Homo sapiens: one gene and its partners. The protein of the gene in region 3 purifies or fractionates together with the protein of the main gene of each other region. This does not show direct contact. Each region holds a gene or a part of one and is shown on either strand. Other genes may lie near its edges.

Region 1 (7,028 bases), on a different chromosome or scaffold from region 3:
CTGACACTTGTCCACTCTGAGTCTCCAGTAATTTGTCAACTACAGGTCAGGTTTTCCTACTACCCTCGCACTGGTTCCTGAAGAGGTTTCTGCACCAGTTAAGTTGTGATTCTCTCTATCTGCCTATCTCCAATTATGGGGGCAGAGATTTGCCCTGTGACCTCGATTCTCTGCTATATACAAGAAAAGTTGTTTTCTCAGGTTGTTCAGTTTTTAATTTGTTATTAGCGTGAAGTGGTAACCTTAAGCTTCTTACATGGCATATTATTATTTTGAGACAGAGTTTCATTCTGTCAGCTGGAGTGCAATGTGGCATGTTCATGGCTCACTGCAGCTTTGACCTCCTAAGCTCAATTGATCCTCCCACCTCAGCCTCCTTAGCTGGGACTATAGGCGTGCACTACCATGCCTGGATAATTTTTTTTTTTTTTTTTCTGGTAGAGACAGGATTTTGCCATGTTGCTCAGGCTGGTCTCGAGCTCCTGGGCTCTGCCCGTTTCAGCATCCCAAAGTGCTGGGATTACAGGTGTGAGCAACCATGCCCAGCCACATACCAGATTCTTGTAGGATTTTTAGTATGAGTTTTTGTCTTGAGGGGCAAAGGAAATTTAAGACTACCATTCCTAGATTTCCTACCTGTTAAAAGTTTGAGAATCACTATTCTAGCAAAATTATATGCAACAAGCACTATAAAGAAGTTGTGACAATTTATAAATTAATTTTAATTTAAAATCTCAGTGTGTACAGATCAATAGTACACACGGAGCAGCTCATGTTTTAGCACACTAGAAGGCAGAAAGGGAGTCGTTTTTTGTTTTCCAAAATCAGATTATGAAGAACAAAATTACTTTAAAATTAGTAATTCAAAATTTGGCATACGTATCACTCTACTTTTTTTTTCCACCTCACAAAATCTTTCTTTTTTTTTTTTAAGTTCCGGGGTACATGTGCAGGATGTGCAGGTTTGTTACATAGGTGAACATGTGCCATGGTGGTTTGCTACACGTATCAACCCATCACCTAGGTATTAAGTCCAGTATGCATTAGCCATTTTTCCTAATGCTCTCCCTACTTCCACCCCACTCTACTTTTTATTTGAAGGTACAGAGTTTCAAGTAGTTCTAAAATGCACAAATGAGTTACCCATGGAACATTTTCTAACTCCTACCTCAAAAACCAGATTATTCCAAAGTATTCGTTATACCTTTGCAGTATGTTTGAAATATTTCATAATAAATGTAACTGCATGAGGTTAAAGGATTTCATACCATTTGATGTTTTAAAACAGGCATTTCAAAAGGAGGTCCTTTTGCTTACAGCTCCAAACTCACTGGACATTTACAGCTTAGAGTATGGTTAAAGTATGGAGACTAAAATGCTTGTTCCTATTAATATATACTTACTTAGGAAAACCAGTCAACTTTTCCTTTAGATATGTAGATGTGATTTGACTACAATGAAGAAAAGTATTTCAAGAAATACTAAATTTGTTCTTTGAATAAGGGAGTGCTAAACAGCTATTACTTTTCTACAGAATCAAAATTTAGTAAAATTAATTTTTCTCATTGCATTATAATTGGGCTAAAAATTAATCAACAAAATATGGCTCATTTAAAATTTGCCTGGGTTTTTCTTTCTTTATATAGAAGTAGGGGAATATTTAAATGTTTATTTGAATATGTGTATGTTCAGCAAATGCTAAAAATTTTATCTTTCTGAGTGACATGAACAAATGACTGCCTGTTGGAAGATGCACTAAACAAAAGCGAGCCTATAGTCTGGTGTTTGCAACTGTCTGAACCATTCAGGAAGAAATCTGGCTGAAACTTCTAGTGAGTTTAATTCATGTCTACCCAGAAAGGCAGCTGCTTGGAGATAAGGCTTTAATGTTTCTCTTGTCCAAGTTTGAATTCACTTTTATCAAAACTAAAAAAATTCTATGGTAGCACACAGTTGTTTTAATATTTTTAAAATTAACCTAGGCTTTTTTTCTCAAATGAAAAATTTTAGCCCATTCATAATGTTCTCTTTTGAAAATAAAATTTCATTCTTCTAGGAAAACAAATTGGAAATAGGAGGTTTTAAAAAGGTCATGCTATACAAACTAGTCATTTCATGTACACAAAGAGTCTAAGGTAATAATTTGAAAATGTTGTTAAAGATTTATGTGAGAAATATGCTTTGTATGTTCATAGGGTGCAATATTTTGCAGACTCTAAAGTCATGCTTTAGTGAATATCTAAAGACCAGGAAAACGTTCATGGTATATGTTGCAGAAAAGCATTGAATAATTAACCATAAAGTGTGGTCCGAATTTTGGAAAATAAAAATCCACATGTGGACATCTGAAACAAAATACATCAAAATAATGGGTTGTATTATTTCTGCTACCAAACTTTCTATACTTTTCAGATTTTCCATGAGGATGTATTTTCATTTAGGTCAAGAAAAATGTACTTTTACTCACTGATGACTATATACCTCCTCTCTTAGAATTGCTCACACAAACCACAACCAAACTGAATAAACTTTGGTCTCAAACGTACTTTTTCTATTCTATATTATTTACCTTCAGCATATATCACAAGGCAGGAAAAATAAATTGTTGCCTACTTCCCCTTCAAAAGTGTTTATGTCTTAACTCTTAGATTGATTCCAGGTCACTTGGGAATGATTTCAACATAGTGTGTACGTGTGTGTGTGTGTGTGTGTGTGTTTGTATGTATGTATGTACATACGTACATACATGTGTTTAAGGGCTGGTAATGTCTCCCTTTAGAATAATTTATTGTTTTTAAAACTCTCTCAAATACATATGTACACACACACACACACACACACTTATTTTGCCTAAGTTACACTTCTTTTTCATCTATATAAGAATATAGATACTTGTGCTTCTAAGCAAAGAGCATTACCTATTACATAAGGTTCTCAGATAACTGACATGGCAGGCTCACTCATTAAGGGAAATTCCTCCCTTCCATTATACATGGTAGTGGCAAAAGCTTAGCCAGCAGATGGTTATGGTTCTCTTGATCATAAAGAAATGTTCCCTAGTTTCAATGAGGTAGACTGGTCTATAAGGAAAATAGACCAGAAGATCCATGTTTTGATACTAGAAATAATGCATGTAACATTCAAAGAAGGATCTTGAGGGCAGGAACCAAGACATCTAAAAATTTAAAAGAGAACCCACAGGGTTCGGCCTATAGTAGAAACTGAAGAAATATTTAAAGAATGAATTACATTTTTATTAAGCAATTCTATTTTTCCATTGTCTTGAAGTACAAAGTGTTGGTGTGGCAAAAGCCTTTGATATCAAAAAAATTGTGGAAATGATTATGCTCCCCTGATATTCTATAAATAGTTCACTCCTTTTTCATGGATATTTACAATATTAATTGGCAGAAGTAGGAATTATCTTGTGGGTACATGCTACTGTATGGCATTTTTGACCCAGCAACCATGTCCTAGTCATGCTGTGTTCCTGGGCTCCTAATTCAGTGGTGTTTACCTCATGAACCAAAGAATGCCCCAAATGAATAGTATACCTTAGAAATCCTTTCAGCACAAGGCTTACAGTGTCTCATTCTTTCAAATATGATCTTATAATTTGCAAAGTTCATTTATAAGAAATTTATATATTAAAATATTCCTAAGAACAATTATACTAGGTAATTTCACAGTAGGTATTCAGGGTCTTAGAATAAAGTGGGACCTTGAAAATAAGTAACTTAAATTTTAGCTGAGTATTCTCAAGCTACTTTTATCAACTGTTTAGAATGAGAGGTATATGTGGCAGAATATTAACTAGAGCCAAGCTATGACAATTTGGCAGAGACTCTACCTCAGACTGTACGTCTAAACAAGTATTTAAGTAGTAACCTTGAATACTGTTTCCAAAAGCTTAACAAGGTGGTTTTATTTCCTTCAATGAGAATGTTTTCCATCAATAAAAAAGTTAACCCACATCTTGTACATAGAATACATTCACTTTGAACTCCATCAGTGGATAGGACAAAGCAATGTCCTTTAATAAATCCAACTACTTCCAAGTATAAAATAAATACAAATTTGTAAAAATTTTTAAAATAGAGATTATACATATAAGGAGATAGAAGAAGTAACATCCTGTGAATATATGCAGTACTTTAACCAAATACTGGTCATCAGATATATGATGCTCATATGGAGAGCTGAGAGGCTTAAAGAAGAGACAACAATAATTTATGATTAAAAATTAAGGTTGGCTGGGTGCGGTGGCTCATGCCTGTATCCCAGCACTTTAGGAGGCTGAGGCCAGCATATCACGAGATCAGGAGTTCGAGACCAGTTTGGCCAACATAGTGAAACCCGGTATCTACTAAAAATACAAAAAATCAGCCGGGTGTGGTGGTGTGCGCCTGTAATCCCAGCTACTCAGGAGGCTGAGGCAGGAGAATCACTTGAACCTGGGAGGCAGAGGTTGCAGTGAGGCGAGATCACACCACTGCACTCCAGCCTGGGCAACAGTGCCAGACTCCGTCTCAAAAAAAAAAAAAAAAAAATTAAGGTTGACAGGTTTGCCAGCCTGCTTCTGAGCTTTCTATCTCCAATAGCTGGTAAGTGGTAACATAGTTATTATTCTTTGTAGACTTGCTCGATCAGAATTACATTTTTGTAGCTCAGAAGATTCACAGTTCCTGTTTCGTATCAAATAGAAAATTCTGGGTCGTACTAAATATTTATAAACTTTCATACTACATAATCGATGTTTTTTAGGGTACAGGATGCCAAAACCATTTAACCTCAAAATCCTCTTGTCTATACATATGTACTTAACAATATGCATATTGTTAGCAAATACAGATGTGAGAGAAAGATAGTATTCTTGAGAGAACTGCATGCCAGGAAGTGCTAGCTTTTAACCTTTGTGTTTTTAATCAAGTAACAGATATTGTTTAAGAAGGTATATCTGAATATACTGTAATGTAAATTTTCAATGAAATAACTTCAGCCCTGAGACATAATGAGATACCAAAGTTTAAAAATCCCAAGTATGTAATAAAACACCAAATTTTAAAATATAACTTTTAACATTTCCTTTTACTTTTCTGAAGAAACATTTAAGATGCACTGTTATAATAAGGTAAACATTGAAACTGAATATATTTGAATTCAAAACTACAGATTTTAATTACTTTTTACTTAAATATTTTAAGCAATTAACAATTTAACCACAGCACCTTATCAGCATCGTAGTATCTAGTAATTCTATTTTTATATCAAAGAAGTATACATTTTTGTCCATTTTTGAATAATTAGTAAATCAGTAGCGTTTGCTTATATTGAATAACCTTGATTGTGAACAATATAAGCAACTCTAATGGACTATTTAGAAAATCGTAATGTTCTAATTAGAAAATACCAGTATCAACAATGTTATTTGTTGAATGCAAATGATAATTACTTTCAGCAATCAACTAAATACCAGATTGACTACAAGAAAGAGAATAAAGGACACCAACTCACCATTAAACAACATTTACTGACTCTATGACCCACCCACCACAATGTTAGCAACAGGGATAATATTTATATAAAAGAGAGTGGGCATGAGCTATGTGTTTCACATCTCTATGTTCCTAAGGTCAGTGGATGATTCATTAAGGAGTTTGTCACCTTTATGAATTCTTTATGTTTAACTTAAGAAATGGATACTCATTTTGTTTGGGGGTTGAGGTAAAACGGGTGGGTCAAATAGATTACCCGAAATAAACATAAACTCATATTCTTTTTCTCCCTTATCCCCAAAAGTGTGTTAAATATAATTCATTGTGGAGAAAAGAAATTGTTAAGTGTGAATCAATTTTATAAAATTAACTGTAATATGGTGGTAATGAAAGATGGTAGTCTGTAAGCAGAGTTCTGGCCACTATTTTGTATATTTAAAAGGTCTATGCAAAAGCTTTGTGATGAATAAAGGAGATTAGGCTTAAAAAAAGTTAACTGCAACAATTTTACCTTCAATTTTTATGATATGGCTCCTTGCATTTGAAAAAGGCTATAGATAGTGATAACTGAAAGAGTAACTGATGGTCCTTTTCACCCTAAGCACAGAGGAAGAGTTCTTCTGTATGCTTACTATTTGTAGTCTGTTACTATTTCTGACCCTGACTCTTGAATTCATTGCCTCTGCTCAGAATCACTCAAGAGTTTAAATTACACTTCTGCTAGACATTTTAAAGAACATATTATACTCATTACACATTCACAGTTAAGGATGGAATCCTTAACAATGAAGGATATAAAACAACTTTTGGTATAATCAAGGATATAATACAACTCGAAAATTGTCTATCATAATCTTCTTAGCTGTTACCAATTGTATGATGTCATATTTACATATGAATGACTTCAACACCTCAATAATCTATGGATTTGTAGTACTGTGATTCTCTTGAAAGCCAGAGCTTATGTAATACAAAATAATAAAATTATGGATTTTACAAAATAATATTCTCTGGCTAAATATTCTTTTTTTTTTTTTTTTTTGAGACAGTGTTTCACTCTTGTTGCCCAGGTTGGAGTGCAATGGCGCAATCTCGGCTCACTGCAACCTCCACCTCCTGGGTTCAAGTGATTCTCCTGTCTCAGCCTCCCAAGTAGTTGGGAGTATAGGTGTGTGTCACCATGCCTGGCTAATTTTGTATTTTTTTTTTTTTTTTTTTTTTAGTACAGATGGGGTTTCACCATGTTGGTCAGGCTGGTCTCCAACTCCTGACCTCTGGTGATCCACCCACCTCGGCCTCCCAAAGTGCTGGAATTACAAGCGTGAGCCACCAAGCCTCGCCTCTGGCTTTCAAAAGAGAGAATCACAATAATACAAAAATTTAAACCTGTTAAAATAACACTGTCCATATCCCAACAGCTCCTAAACACGTTAACTAAAATGGCATAATAAATTTGCCTGAGTTCATGTATGCCTTAATAAATAATCTTCAGAAAAAAATTTTAATCATTTTATTTTTCTATATTAACCATTT
Region 2 (7,266 bases), on a different chromosome or scaffold from region 3:
AAACTGAGTTCATAACATTTCTGGGGCTTTACAAGATAGCTATCTCTTGCTCTTATTTGTCCTTTCACTACTTATTTCAAGCTTCAAAGAGTTCCTTATTATTAGTACTCCCACTTTTTATGATTTATATGGTTACATCATATCCTCCTTCAATCTCCATTTTTCCAGATAAGATAATATTGCTTTTGTAGTCATATGAAAGTCTCTCCATTTTTCTCCATCTACTTATAATTTCTCTGGACCTTTTCTACTTTTGAAGCATTTAATTTGGTGGGAAGAACACTGGGCTAGGAGCCAGAAGTCCTCACTCTGCAATCTCATCTCTCAGATTCTTTATCTGAGAGGATTGCATTTGATAAATTTGTAATAAGCTCCTTTATATCTCTAAGCCTCATATATCTAAGACTCTGGATCTTCCAACTAAAAATCATGTGGTATTCTAACAATTCCCCTCAATATTTCACTCCACTTAGCCAAAGAGGGGCAGGAAGATCAGATTGAAGGCCAGAGGAAGACACAACAATCAGGAAGCTCAGGGCTACAGAAGGAAAGACATGACATTTTATGAATCAACAGAAAAAGATTCAATAAGATAAATCAGACACCAAAGAGAGGAAAAAAGTCACAGAAACACATGGCCTAATTCTAACCTCATCTCTACACATCTATTTGAAGGGGGAATAATAAATATAAAAATGCGTGTATTATTGTCCTTACCAAAGTTACTAGATGTCTCTGTTACAGATTTTTTTTTTTTTTTTTTTTTGAGACGGAGTCTCACTCTGTTGCCCAGGCTGGAGTACAATGGCGCGATCTCGGCTCACTGCAACCTCTGCCTCCCGGATTCAAGTGATTCTCCGGCCTCAGCCTCCCGTGTAGCTGGGATTACAGGTGCCCACCACCATGCCTGGCTTATTTTTGTATTTTTAGTAGAGACAGGGTTTCACCAGGTTGGCCAGGCTGGTCTGAAACTCCTGACCTCAGGTGATCCATCTGCCTCGGCTTCCCAAATTGCTGGGATTACAGGCATGAGCCACCACGCCCGGCTTCTGTTACAGAATTTAAGACTGACCTAACTACTACAGTTAGGCCTAATACAATGTATTTCTTAACTTCTTAAGGAAAACGAGATTATTGGAATAGTACGTGTATTTCTGGCATAACAGGAAGGAACAAATTGTGGATGAATAAAGAGAACCTTTTGGCAGCAGTGGAGTTTATCCAGCCCTCATTTCTGCCTCAAAGGAGGAATGCAACTCTGTGCCAGAAATATGTGTCTATATTGCAATGCTGTTGATAAAACAGCCTACTACAGTGCTTTGAGGAAAATAGGCATTACGCAGGTATTTGATGACTAAATTAACGTCCAGCTGAACTGAAAGCCCTCATAATGCTACTAGTACTGCTACATACCAGATAATATGACAGTCAAGGCCATGGGAATTATATGGCATTGGCTGCCCTGGTTCCATGGGGAGACTTGAGTGAGCTGGGCGGAGGAGATTTGGCCTAATGGCATTAAGCTCTGATGATACTAGAAGCAGCCCTCAGAAGGAAAAGATTAATGGGCTATCTCTAAACCATCAGAGCAATATCGGAATATGCATGAAAATCATTTCCTACCCCGTGTCAGGGTCAAAAAAAGCACTATCTTTTCTCATATTGGCTTCTGGAGAGTCAGGGCTTCTTGTCCTACGACTGGTTTAGGGCAGGGGAGGAAAACATCGACAAAGGGTTAAGGCTGTTGGGCAGTTTTTAAAATTCCCAGCCCAGCCTAAAGGTGGTGTCTGTCAACGTGTGGTCGGTCCCTGGATCATCAGTAACAGACCAAGAGTGCAGGTGCTTGCTTAAATCCCAGACTCAGGGACCCATCACAAATCTCTAGAATCAAATTTATGGAAGAGGTGCTAGGGTACTGCAACCTTATTACTAAGGAACAATCTTCTGTTTCAGAACTATGGCCTAGGAATTGGGGTTTCAGGTGGGGGCCTTGAGCGGAAGTCCTCTGACTCTGGATTCATCACATCCGACAGACACTACTACAACACTTTGTTTTGAAGACCATTAAAAAACTACCTCAACTTCTCGCACAGCGAACAGGAACAAAACTAAGGACTCTGGGACATATTTTCATAAGCTGGTTAAACAGTTCCTTCACAGCCTTGTTTATCATGTTAGTTTGTTCACTAGATTCTTATTTAAAAATAAATCTCTTCAACTGAGGAATTTTCAGAAAGAATCACAAACTCCAAAATAGAAGAGTTTTCTCATAGTGCAGAACTGGGCTTCTAAACCTGAAGACACTGCTATAAAAAGCAAAGTTTTATTTAAAAGAAAATTGCTGGTTAAGGCTTTCCCCAGCTCTTTTGCACTCAGAGCCACGGATGAAAGCTGGCAATTTGCGGGTGGCAGGGAAGGAAGACGCGGAAACAGGGCTGAAAAGACCGAGCAAAATGCGCTCGGCTCCAGAGTTCAGGAGGAAGTCCCCACCAACTACCTAATTTTTAATGGAGCCAATTAATTGCCAGAAAAACCGCGTCTGCAAATGTTTTGCCAGTCAACACTCCAGGTTCTCGCCATTCCTCTCCGGCGGGATGAACCACCCGAGGCCTGCAAAAAGCAGTCAAGCAGTCAAGTTACACTTCAGCTGTGCCCACCACCTGGGCGCAGCGTCGCCTCCCTCCCCAGGATCACCAGACTCTGCCCTCCGCGCGGAAACAGGAGCCCATCAAGCCGCTGCCCACAGGTTCCTCGCGCCCAGCTCAGCCCCGCGGCCTTTCGACTCGGGGGTCCGAACCGCCGCCGCGTCCGGAGGAGACGCCCCCTCGGCCACAAAGGGAAGACTCGGGCCACGCCCGCCGCCACACTCTCCCTGCCCGGTCTTCGCGCCCGAAACCGTACCGCGCCGCCACTTACTCGTCGCTCCCCGCCGCGCTGTCCCGCTCGGGGCTGGAATCCGCCCGGGAGGCGCGCGCAGGCCGCGCAGCCAGAAGCCGCAGCCGGGACCGGCTGTGCCGCAGCGGCGCGCGCCCCCCGCCCCGGACCGCGCGGCCACGCGGCTGAGTCACCCAGCGCTTCACGTTAAGAGTCCCCTCCGCGCGTGGCACGCCGGGAAGGCCGTGTCTGGGGACCCCGTCCGGGGCCGCACCGTAAATGGGTGTCGCCTTTCCTCCAGTCCACTCTGCACCCAACCTCAGCGGGCGCACTTTTCTGAGTTGCGCATACCCTCTCAATTATTAAAGGTTGCAGACGGAAAAGTTAGTAGTTTTCGGAATTGTAGAATACGCTCGTGCAGCGCCAGGACGGCTAATGCTTACCCGAAAATGTGGAACCCTGATCTCCCCATGCGTGGAGCGAGGTTGGAGGTAGCGTAGTAAGAATACTGGAGTTGCTTAAACGCATTTGCTCGAAAGTCACTACCCTGGATATACATTCTGGCCAAAAGAAAGGGGGAAAAACTCCACATTTTTCTCAAATACTGAGTTTCATGAAGGTACCTGCTATTACAAAGGTGTATTACAAATTTTAAATCAACCGGAAGCAAGTTACTGGGAAAACTGTGTTATGAGTAAAAGATTTCAGCATTCAAAAAACATCTATATATGGTCCATGTCCTATGAACCAAATGCTGGAAAACCCAAAAGGAAGTTCTTATTGTCACGGTTTCTAGTGGCTTTTGTACTTTTAAAAATTACACTAGGCCGGGCTTGGTGGCTCACGCCTGTAATCCTTGCACTTTGGGAGGCCGAGGCGGGCAGATCACCTGAGGTTGGGCATTCCAGACCAGCCTGGCCAACATGATGAAACCCTGTCTCTGCTAAAAATACAAAAATTAGCCGGGCGTGGTGGTGGGCGCCTATAACCCTAGCTGTTTGGGAGGCTGAGGCAGGAGAATCACTTGAACCCAGGAGGCAACTGGGAGGTTGCAGTGAAGTTCCCTCTCAAATATATATATATATGTCTATATATACTAATTAAATATACTGATTATGCAAACTATTTGTAAATTGTTGAAAGCTCTATAAACTAATAATAGCACAAATTTTAAAATTCGAAGTCGATTCTCCTTTTCCTTACAAGAGACTCTCTGAAAACTAATTTGGAATTGGATTAGAATTGGTGTTGAAGTGGAAGGAATGTAAGAAAATAGTTTGACTCAGTAGGTTTCACACGGTTAACGGATACTTGTATAGCAAATTTGTTTTATCAGGGTCAAAAAATTTAATTTTCAAAACTGAAGACATAAATTTTTTCATTATAATTTGGTCTTAGAGGCCTAGAGGGTCATTTTCCATTTCTATTCTCCCTCGTTTATGACTATAAAGTATGCAGGACTGTATTGTGTTTATCTCAACATGGACTAGGCTGTGAGGCTGCACTCGTCATCTGTAAGTCAGTCTCACGTCCCCATGGTGACTCAGCTTCCCTGCTGCTTGCGTCAGTGGCTCTGCCCTCCCAGCACTTCCGGGCTGGCAGAAGAGCTAGATTGGAGAATCCTGTAAGGGCTCTCCTTTGCCTCTGCCAGAAGTGAGTGGCCTTTTCACTTCTGCTGACGTTTCACTGTCCTGAACTAGTCACCAGGCTCAACCTGACTGACTCTAAGAAGGCTGTGAGATATAAATTCCTGTATGCCTGGAGAAAAGGAATATGAAAAAAGATTTAGTAAACACATGGCTATAAACCAATTTGAGTGAGTTATAGGCTCCAAACTTTACAACAGTAGCAGCATAGAGGATTGTTCAAACTAATGCCTTTATTTCCATTTTTATAAAGTACAGTGTTACAGCCTTTGAGTCAAAGAAAAATAAAAAACCTTCTGATATTCCTGCAAAACAGTTCTTGAAACAAATTCTTCCTTTCTGGAAAGATTCCTTCCCGTAGATTTGTATATTGTCTTTCTTTTTTTTTTTTTTTTTCTTTTTGTGGAGAATGGAGTTCTTATTCTGTTGCCCAGGCAGGTCTTGAACTCCTAGGCTCAAGCTATCCTCCTGCTTCTGCCTCCCTAAGTTTGGGGATTACAGGCATGAGCCACTGCACTGGCTGCAGATTTGTGGTATACAAAAATCTGGCCTGAAGTTTGGAGAATCAGGCTAACTACCGAGTCTTATTATTATTTTTTAAACACTTTCATTTTGGAAATTAAAGCATACAGAAAGATATAATAAACACCCGTTATCCATCATCCAAAATAAATAAGTGATAACATGACTTTTAATAGTTAATGGTTCAACTTTTGGCTAAAATTTCATATAATGAACAGCATATCAGACTGGGTACCTTTTTTGGGCAGACATCAAGGAGACGGGATATGAGAAATGTATATTCACAGAAAGCATAGGTGTTTGCTGGTTTTTATCATTTTATTTCTAATTTAATGTAGGTATCTCAAGACCCCGAGTCTCTGATATTTATTTGTATCTGAAACCAAAACCTTCTTCTTTTTTTTTTTTTGAGACAGTGTCTCCCTTTGTTGCTCAGGCTGGGTGATCACCACTCACTGCAGCCTCGATCTTCTGGACTTAATCCCCCTCCCAGGTTCACGCCATTCTCCTGCCTCAGCCTCTCGAGTAGCTGGGACTACAGGCGCCCGCCACTGTGCCCGGCTAATTTTTTGTATTTTTAGTAGAGATGGGGTTTCACCATGTTAGCCAAGATGGTCTCGATCTCCTGACCTCGTGATCCACCCGCCTCGGCATCCCAAAGTGCTGGGATTACAGGCGCAAGCCACCACGCCCGGTCAAGGTTGACTCTTAAGAATAAAAATATTTTTTAAATAATAGCTATTGTAAATTGTCATACAAAAAGCTAATCCTCATTTCTACCGACTAAGCTTATGTAGTAAATATAAAAACAAACCAAAAATCCCTAGATTTTGAACTGTCTCTCTCGAATAATTAAATTTGCTAAATGTTCGTTTTCTTTTGTTTTCTGAGACAGAGTCTTGCCCTGTCACTCAGGCTGGAGTGCAGTGGTGGGATCATGGCTCACTGCAACCTCAACCTCCTGGGCTCAAGTGATCCTCCCACCTCAGCCTCCTGAGTAGCTAGGACTACAGGTGCAGGCCACCACCCCAAGCTAATTTTTTAATTTGTAGAGAGGAAGTCTCACTATATTGCCCAGGCTGGTCTCAGAATCCTGTGGGGAGTCAGGATAGGGGAGTCAGGAAATGTGGAAATGTGTTACGCTGGGTTTCGGCGGAGGCTGGGTGTAAACTGATAATGTTTATCTCTTGTTATTCCTGTTAATGGTTTACAAACAGGCTCTGGCCTTCGTATCCCATGTACTGGCTCTGGCAGCTCACATGACCTCTTGTTTATGAACACACAAGTCTCATTCTTGAACCTAATACTGAGAATGCTTAGTTGTTTTTTTTTTTTTTTTTTCAGCCTTATATGAGTGTTGTTGTTGTTGTTTTGAGATGGAGTCTCCCTCTGTCGCCCAGGCTTGAGTGCAATGGCGTGATCTCTGTTCACTGCTACCTCCACCTCCCGGATTCAAGCGATTATCCTACCTCAGCCTCCCAAGTAACTGGGATTACAGGCATGCGCCATTATGCCCAGCTAATTTTTTTTATTTTTAGTAGAGATGGGGTTTCACCAGGTTGGCCAGGCTCTTCTCCAACTCCTGACCTCAGATGATCCACCCGCCTCCGCCTCCCAAAGTGCTGGGATTACAGGCGTGAGCCACCACTCCCAGCCACCTTATATGAGTTTTAAATAAACTGCATTTGGAAAAGAAAATAGGCCGGACGCCTGTAATCCCAGTACTTTGGGAGGCCAAGGCGGGTGGATCACCTGAGGTCGGGAGTTTGAGACCAGCCTGTCCAACATGGTGAAACCCCGTCTCTACTAAAAATACAAAAAATTAGCTGGGCGCGGTGGTGCGCCTGTAATCCCAGCTACTTGAGAGGCTGAGGCAGGAGAATTGCTTGAACCCAGGAGGCGGAGGTTGCAGTGAGCCAGGATCGCACCACTGCTCCAACCTGGGCGATACCGAGACTCCGTCTCAAAAAAAAAAAAGTTCCAATAACCCACTGAGCCACCACAGAAAGCTATGAGATATTTATTTAGTAGATAGGTAAACTTTATTTCGCAAGCCCAAGGGGATAATTTACTTTTCATCCCCCTCTCTTTAAAAACAGAGAACCTCCAACAAATGGTATATAAAGGAAAACAAAGCAAACAAAAGAGGGAAACTTTGCAATTTATTAACTCAAGCATGAAAATACAGAAAATAAAGAGGGCTCAACATACTTGGAAAAGTAAG
Region 3 (7,028 bases):
GCAGGATCTCGGCTCACTGCAACCTCTGCCTCCCGGGTTCAAGCGATTCTCGTGCCTCAGCCTCCCAAGTAGCTGGGATTACAGGCGCCCACCACCACACCTGGCTAATTTTTGTATTTTTAGTAGAGACGGGGTTTTACCATGTTGGTCAAGCTGGTCTCGAACTCCTGACTTCATGAGATCCACTGACCTCAGCCTCCCAAAGTGTTGGGATTACAGGCATGAGCCACCATGCCTGGCCTAATGTTTGTTATTTTTTAAATAAATAAATATTTTAAACATTTTTCAGTTTTAATTTCTAATGTTAAGTATGGACAGACATAGTCTATATAAACAAAAGATTTTTGGGGTCCTCAGAAATTTTTAAGAGTATAAATGTGTCCTGAGACCAAAATGTTTGAAAACCATTAGTTTATAGTACCACAAAAAAATAGCACTTTTAAGTATATGTATACAAGAGAATGGACACCTGAATATGAATCAGAAGATCTTGGCTCCAATTCTAGCACCACTTCTTACTTGCTTTAGGATTTCAATAAATTACTTCATCTCTCTAAGGCCTTAGTTTCCTCATCTGTAAAATGGGTAACTCATGTCTTCCAAGGATAAAAGAGACAAAATATGTAAAAGCAATTTATAAACTACAAGGTACACTATTATTACAAGATCTCAAAGTTAAGCATTTTAAACACTTCTTATGATGTTTTGTTTCTTTGTTTTTGAAACAGGGTCTCACTCTGTTGCCCAGGCTGGAGTGCACTGGCACTAACATGGCTTACTGCAGCCTTGACCTGCCAGGCTCAGGTGATCCTCCTACCTGAGCCCCACGAGTGGCTGGGACTACAGGTGTGCACCATCACACCCAGCCAATTTTTTGTATTTTTTGTGGCGACAAGGTTTCACCATGTTGCCCAGGCTGGTCTACTCCTGACCTCAAGTGATCCGCCCACCTCCCCAAGTGCTGGGATTACAGGCATGAGCCACCATGCCTGGCCTCTTACGATGTGTCTATGAAATTTTCCTTATTCTTAAAATTTTATTACTAAAAACAGAACTTATAGAAAATGTCAAGTGCAGGCCAGGAGCAGTGGATTACACCTATAATCCTAGCACTTTGAGAGGCCAAGACAAGCAGATCACTTGAAGTCAGGAGTTTGAGACCAGCCTGGCCACCCTGGTGAAACCACATCTCTACTAAAAATACAAAAATTAGCTGGTGTGGTGGTGCACGCCTGTAATCCCAGCTACTTGGGAGGCTGAGGCAGGAGAATTGCTTGAACCCAGGAGGCAGAGATTGCAGTGAGCTGAGACTGCGCCACTGCACTCCAACCTGGGTGACAGAGTGAAACTGGGTCTCAAAAAAAAAAAAAAAAAAAAAAAGCCAAGTGCAGACTTTTGATTAGCTAATTAGCTCAAATGTCCAAGCATATAATTTTACTTTATTTTATTTTGCAGAGACAGAGTCTCACCATGCTACCTAAGCTGGTCTCAAACTCCTGACCTCAAGCGATCCTCCCACCTCAGCCTCCCAAAGTACTGGATCATAAGAATGAACCCTCATACCCAACCCAACAACACAATTTTATTGCATTTAATTTCTTACCCTACAGTTATAATTGGTTATATATTTTAAATCATTATTAGGGACATTTCCAAATATACACAAATGTAAAAAAAATAACAAACTCCAACTTACCCATTACTCAGCTTCAACAATTTTCAAAAATTTATCAATACTCTTTTATTCATTTCCCACTTCTGTGTGTTTGTGCCCATCCTGAAGTTTTTTAAAATGAACATTTCGCATCATTTTATTCTGCCTGTAAGTACATCCATATGTATTTTTAACACATGAAAATATTTTAACATAACCACAATATGACTATTATAGCTGAAAACATTATGGTTGTAACTATTAAATATCACCTAATATATATTCCATTTTCAAGTTTCCCAACTGTCTCAATTAAAAAAAAAAAGTCTTTGTTAGTTTTTGGTTGGTGGGTATTATCAAAATATCATTCTTACCAATTCTTTCTCAAGTCAACCCAAGATGTTTAACTAAAGCTACGAAGGAAGAGGAAATAATACTATGCTTCATATACCATGTACAGTTTACAAAACAAGTCAAGAACTATCTTCTCGAGGAATTTTCTTTTCCACCAACCAAACAATAACAACAAAAACCAAGCAACAACAACAAATAAACCCACTACAAAATAAGCCAGCATGGCAATACATATACCTTAGTATTCTGAGAAGTGATCCAAAGAGCACACAGCTCAGCTGCTCGGGAAGAGAAGGAGCTGTTACACTGTGAGCCGAAAAAGGTGACTGGAAACAACCACCCATCATTTTGGAAAAGAAGAAGTCAGGTCAGCCACAGGGTCAAAGCTGGAGGTGAGGTCAGAGACCCCGTTCTAGAGTGAGCACATGGCTCAAATAAGAGTCCATGCCCAAGACTATAAGTCAACCCCTTGCAAACTGCAACTCAAAGCTCAAAACACAGTGCTCTAAGCTAGAGATATAATGGAACGGCTATAAAAAGCAACAGGTGTAAGAACTGACTGAAATTATTTGACAAACATTTGTCAAAAGCCTACTCTACTATCCTGGGATATAAACTGTGTATTTAAAAACTAGTACAACGCACACTGTAAGTAGCATATACTTCTCTACACATCTTTCCCCATTTATTTTAAGAGAAATAATGGATATATTAAATATTAATTATCTTGCCATACCATTACATCTTTTTTCTATAAACGCAATTTGCCCCACCCCAACATACATAGACATTAAAACAAACCTGAATTCTTCTGTCTTTCCCAAATATTTTTGAGGAGTACAAGTCAGATTAACTTTTATTACACATACCACAGACCCACAGCATTTATAGCTGTAATTCTTTTCTAAATTAAGGCCAAGCATGGTGGCTCACACCTGTAATCCCAATGCTTTGGGACGCCGAGGTGGGAGGATTGATTGAGCCCAGGAGTTCAAGACTAGCTGGGCAACATAGCAAGACCCTGTCTCTACACAAAATAAAAAATTAGCTAGGTATAGTTGCACATGCCTATAGTCCTAGCTATTTGGGAGGCTGAGGTGGGAGAATCCCTTGAACCGAGGAAGTCAAGGATGTAGTGAGCTGTGATGACACCACTGCACTCCAGCTTGGGCGACAGAGTAAGACCATGTCTCAAAAAAATAAAAATTAAATAAATTAAGCATTTAGTTTAGGAGGAAATCAAGAGAGCACTAAAGAATTTCCTACCTTGTATTAAAATTGTTTCCCATAGGTTTATCTCAAGTATTTTGTAGATGAAAATTGGTTAGGTGCATACAGAATAATTCTTGAGGGATTTGGTTCTATAGACACACTTAATATCAACACTTTTTAAAATCCTTTACCTCAATTTCACCTATAAAAAAGTTTTGCTGGTCACAGTGGCTTGTGCCTGTAATCCTAGCACTTTGGGAGACTAAGGCAGGAAGACTGCTTGAAGCCAGGAGTTTAAGACCAGCCTGGGCAACAAAGTGAGACCCCCATCTCTATAAAAATAATAAAAATAAATAATAATAATTAGCCGGGTGTGGTGGCATGCACCACCTGTGGTCTCAGCTACTTGGGAGGCTGAGGCAGGAGGACTGCTTGAGCCCAGGAGTTTGAGACTACAGTGAGCTATGATTGCTCTATTGCACTTCAGCCTGTGTGACAGAGACAGACCCCATCTTTAATTAAAAAAAAAAAAATTAAAAACTGCAAAAAGAGTGAAGGGCACATATTTCTTAAAGAATGCTTCAGAAGAACAAAATGTGCCCCAAAACATGAAATAGCTCCTGATAATATCAGTTTTTAGTTGACCACTATGAAGGACATCTTCTAAACAATAACAAAACAAACCTGGCAGTCCAATAACTACAGGAAAGATCAAGACTTCCCCATTTTGGAACATCTTTGCTTCAGGTTTTTACTTTTTGTAGTAATACAGGAACAATATGCCATAGGGACAAGAGTTGAACAGGTGTCATCCCTTACCCTATTTTACCTATTGGTAATTAAGCCTAACAGTTTATTGTCTGTACATCTTTTCTTTTGTATGTTCCCATACAAAACAATCTTTGGAATTTAGCTTCACTTTATGACACTATGGTGATTATTGTTCCTAACAGAGAGTCTAACCTAAGAATATAGCCCAATACGTGAAAAAGCTAACTGAACAGTAAACAATGACATTAATCTCATTGTAAAAAAACATGAGATTCTTAGCAAATGGCAGCAAAAGAACTGTGGATACATTAACAAGGCATTAAAAAAAAAATTTAAAGTTTCTGGCCGGGTGTGGTGGCTCACACCTGTAATCCCAGCACTTTGGGAGGCCAAGGCGGGTGGAACACGAGGTCAGGAGATCGAGACCATCCTGGCCAACGTGGTGAAACCCCGTCTCTACTAAAATACAAAAAAAAATTAGCTGGGTGCGGTGGCACACGCCTGTAGTCCCAGCTACTCGGGAGGCTGAGGAAGGGGAATCGCTTGAACCCGGGAGGCGGAGGCTGCAGAAAGCCGAGATGGCGCCACTGCACTCCAGCCTGGCGACAGAGCAAGACTCCGTCTCAAAAAAAAAAAAAAAAAAATCTAAGTTTCCATGCTTTGACCTAAAAAAAAGTCACATAGGTTTCTTTTTCTTTAATTCCCATTTCTTTTTTTAAAAACTGGTTAATGTGTAGATTTTTATTCAAATTCATTTGGACTGCACATGAATATTAAAAAGTTATAACATGAAGACTGTTCATTAGACTATCATAGGCAAAGCAAGTGATTCACAGAATAAGTGCAATTTATCGACCCTGATCATTACCTTTACTACCGACCACTATTTAACATCACTTTTTTAATGTACTGTTTACTTGTTTACTGTCTTTGTTTATTGTCCTGTCTTCTCCCACTAGAATATAAGTTACGTAAGGGCAAAAACTTTCTCTTATTTTCCACTGTATGGCCAGGGTCTAGCACTTGGTAGAGGATCAGCATAAATTTGCTGAATGAGATGGGTGAATACCTTCCGCCTTTCGCCTCCCCCACTTCCCTCTCTCCATACACATGTTAACCAATCTTTAAGGCCAGGGTCAAATTCTATTATCTCTATGAAGATTACCTCCCTGAGCCCTCTTTCTCTTTTGTACCTGAATTTGGCACTTGCCAGCTGTCTGGTAATTATCTTTGCATATGTATGTATCTCCCTTAAAATTCTTATAATCCTGTTCTCCATAACATGGGCCAGTGTCCCCAACTTTTGGAATCCATCTCAGCACATGTAAACAGCATACTGCTAACAAATGTTTTGCTTGATTCCTATCAGTAGTTAATCCAGAAATTCAGTTAATAATTTCAGTTTATAATGTATCCCTCCCTTTCAAATAACTCAAAATAGGCCATGATATTACAGCGAATCCCTCTTTTTATTTCTGACAATTTTAAATTTTACATTCTCATATAAGTAATGCTCATAATTTACCCTATCAATCACTATCCCTCAAGATTATATGTTTTTTTTTTTTTGATACACTGTCTTGCTCTGTTGCCCAAGCTGGAGCGCAGCAGTGCCATCATAGCTCACTGCAGCCTTGACCTCCCAGGCTCAAGAGATCCTCCCACTTCAGCCTCCAAAGTAGCCGGCACCACAGCTGCGTACTACTACCATACCTAGCTAATTTTTTGATTTTCTGTGGAAACAAGGTCTTTGTTGCCAGGGCTGTTCTCAACACCTGAGCTCAAGTGATCCTCCTGCCTTAGCCTCTTAAAGTGCTGGGATTATAGGAATGAGCCACCACGCCTGGCCTACATTTTTTAATGTAATAAAAAAATCTTGTGACTTTGTGGCAATACCTATAATGATGTTTCTAACCCCAGTCAAGAAGGGCGTGAAGTTTCATTCCTCTCTCTTGTTGCTGAGGTATCAGAGGGCATTTTTCCACTTATTCCTCTTTCCTTTCATGGCAAGATGTATTCTGTTCCCTTCCTTACTGATCATACTCCTGGCAAGCTTTTATTATTTCTTTGTACCTGTCCAAGGTAATCTGTCTTACATCCTTCTTTTGAGCCACTGTTTCCTCCAGTTATTTATTTGATTAAAATTCTAACTCCCTGTCTCAATCCATTTGTGTAGAAGAACCAGCTCTTCTTAAAGCCTGAGCCTGCTTCTTTAAATTCGGCCAACCTTTATGAACCTCTCTTCACACAGCCAACCCTTGATCATCAAGGATAATGAAATGCATACAAATAACAGATTGTCTACAACACAAGAAAATCAGAAAAAAAAAATTGACATCTGGCTTTGGAATTTATCATATGTAGCTTTGGGCAAGACTTATTTTCCTAATTATGTTTTTGTTTAAGCCAACATTCGGATTTTCTTTTATGATGGTGAATATCTCCGTTTTAAATGATCAGTAAATTTCTTTTAAAGCCAATCAAGCACCAACTATGGTTTTTCCTGTGAAATCTTTTTAACTAGTTTCTTTCATCTGTTGAAATCTGTCATAAAATCTGTTTTATTTCCTCTAAGTTATCTCCTTATTTTCTTGGGATTCTGATCCAAATCAGTTCACCCTATATTAATTTACTTCTTCAAATTAAAGTACCTTTTGCTTGAGAACTTAATGCATTTTAAAAACACTGAATGTCCAGTGAAATTTTTAGTTCAGGTAACACGAAGTAGAAAATTATTTTTGTCTAGGAAAACTTGGGAGTTCTAGGATAAATTATTACACTGGTAATTCTAGCAAATTATATTTAGTAGGATTTTTAGGATTAGCTGAAAATTGAAAAAATTTAATACTGGACAGCTATATAAGTCTGCTTCATCAATATATTAATCCCATATGCTAAACACTGTATGAAATTAAATTCCCAGTCCAGGGATTTACAGAAAATAGCATCAAAACACACTAACACATAAATCCTGCCTCTTATTCTGATCCCTACCTAAACTCTGCAACCTTCTCACACCTACTCTTCCCCCCTCCCA

What was found.
Region 1: the proteins of DUSP16 (region 3) and MLF1 purify together in Homo sapiens (affinity purification with mass spectrometry; 2 studies listed by BioGRID and IntAct, with this or other methods). This does not show direct contact.
Region 2: the proteins of DUSP16 (region 3) and KCTD20 purify together in Homo sapiens (affinity purification with mass spectrometry; 2 studies listed by BioGRID and IntAct, with this or other methods). This does not show direct contact.

The regions. Positions count from the first base shown.
Region 1 is NC_000003.12:158,574,194-158,581,221, reverse strand, and holds part of MLF1 (myeloid leukemia factor 1), read right to left. Parts: intron 1-7,028. UniProt on the Homo sapiens protein: Involved in lineage commitment of primary hemopoietic progenitors by restricting erythroid formation and enhancing myeloid formation.
Region 2 is NC_000006.12:36,438,762-36,446,027, reverse strand, and holds the start of KCTD20 (BTB/POZ domain-containing protein KCTD20), read right to left. Parts: upstream 3,029-7,266; 5' UTR 2,917-3,028; intron 2,611-2,916; exon of another isoform or gene 2,498-2,610; intron 1-2,497. Other genes in the region: PXT1 (peroxisomal testis-specific protein 1), read left to right, coding at 3,488-3,493. UniProt on the Homo sapiens protein: Promotes the phosphorylation of AKT family members.
Region 3 is NC_000012.12:12,552,840-12,559,867, forward strand, and holds part of DUSP16 (dual specificity protein phosphatase 16), read right to left. Parts: intron 1,821-7,028; exon of another isoform or gene 1,697-1,820; intron 597-1,696; exon of another isoform or gene 470-596; intron 1-469. UniProt on the Homo sapiens protein: Dual specificity protein phosphatase involved in the inactivation of MAP kinases. Dephosphorylates MAPK10 bound to ARRB2.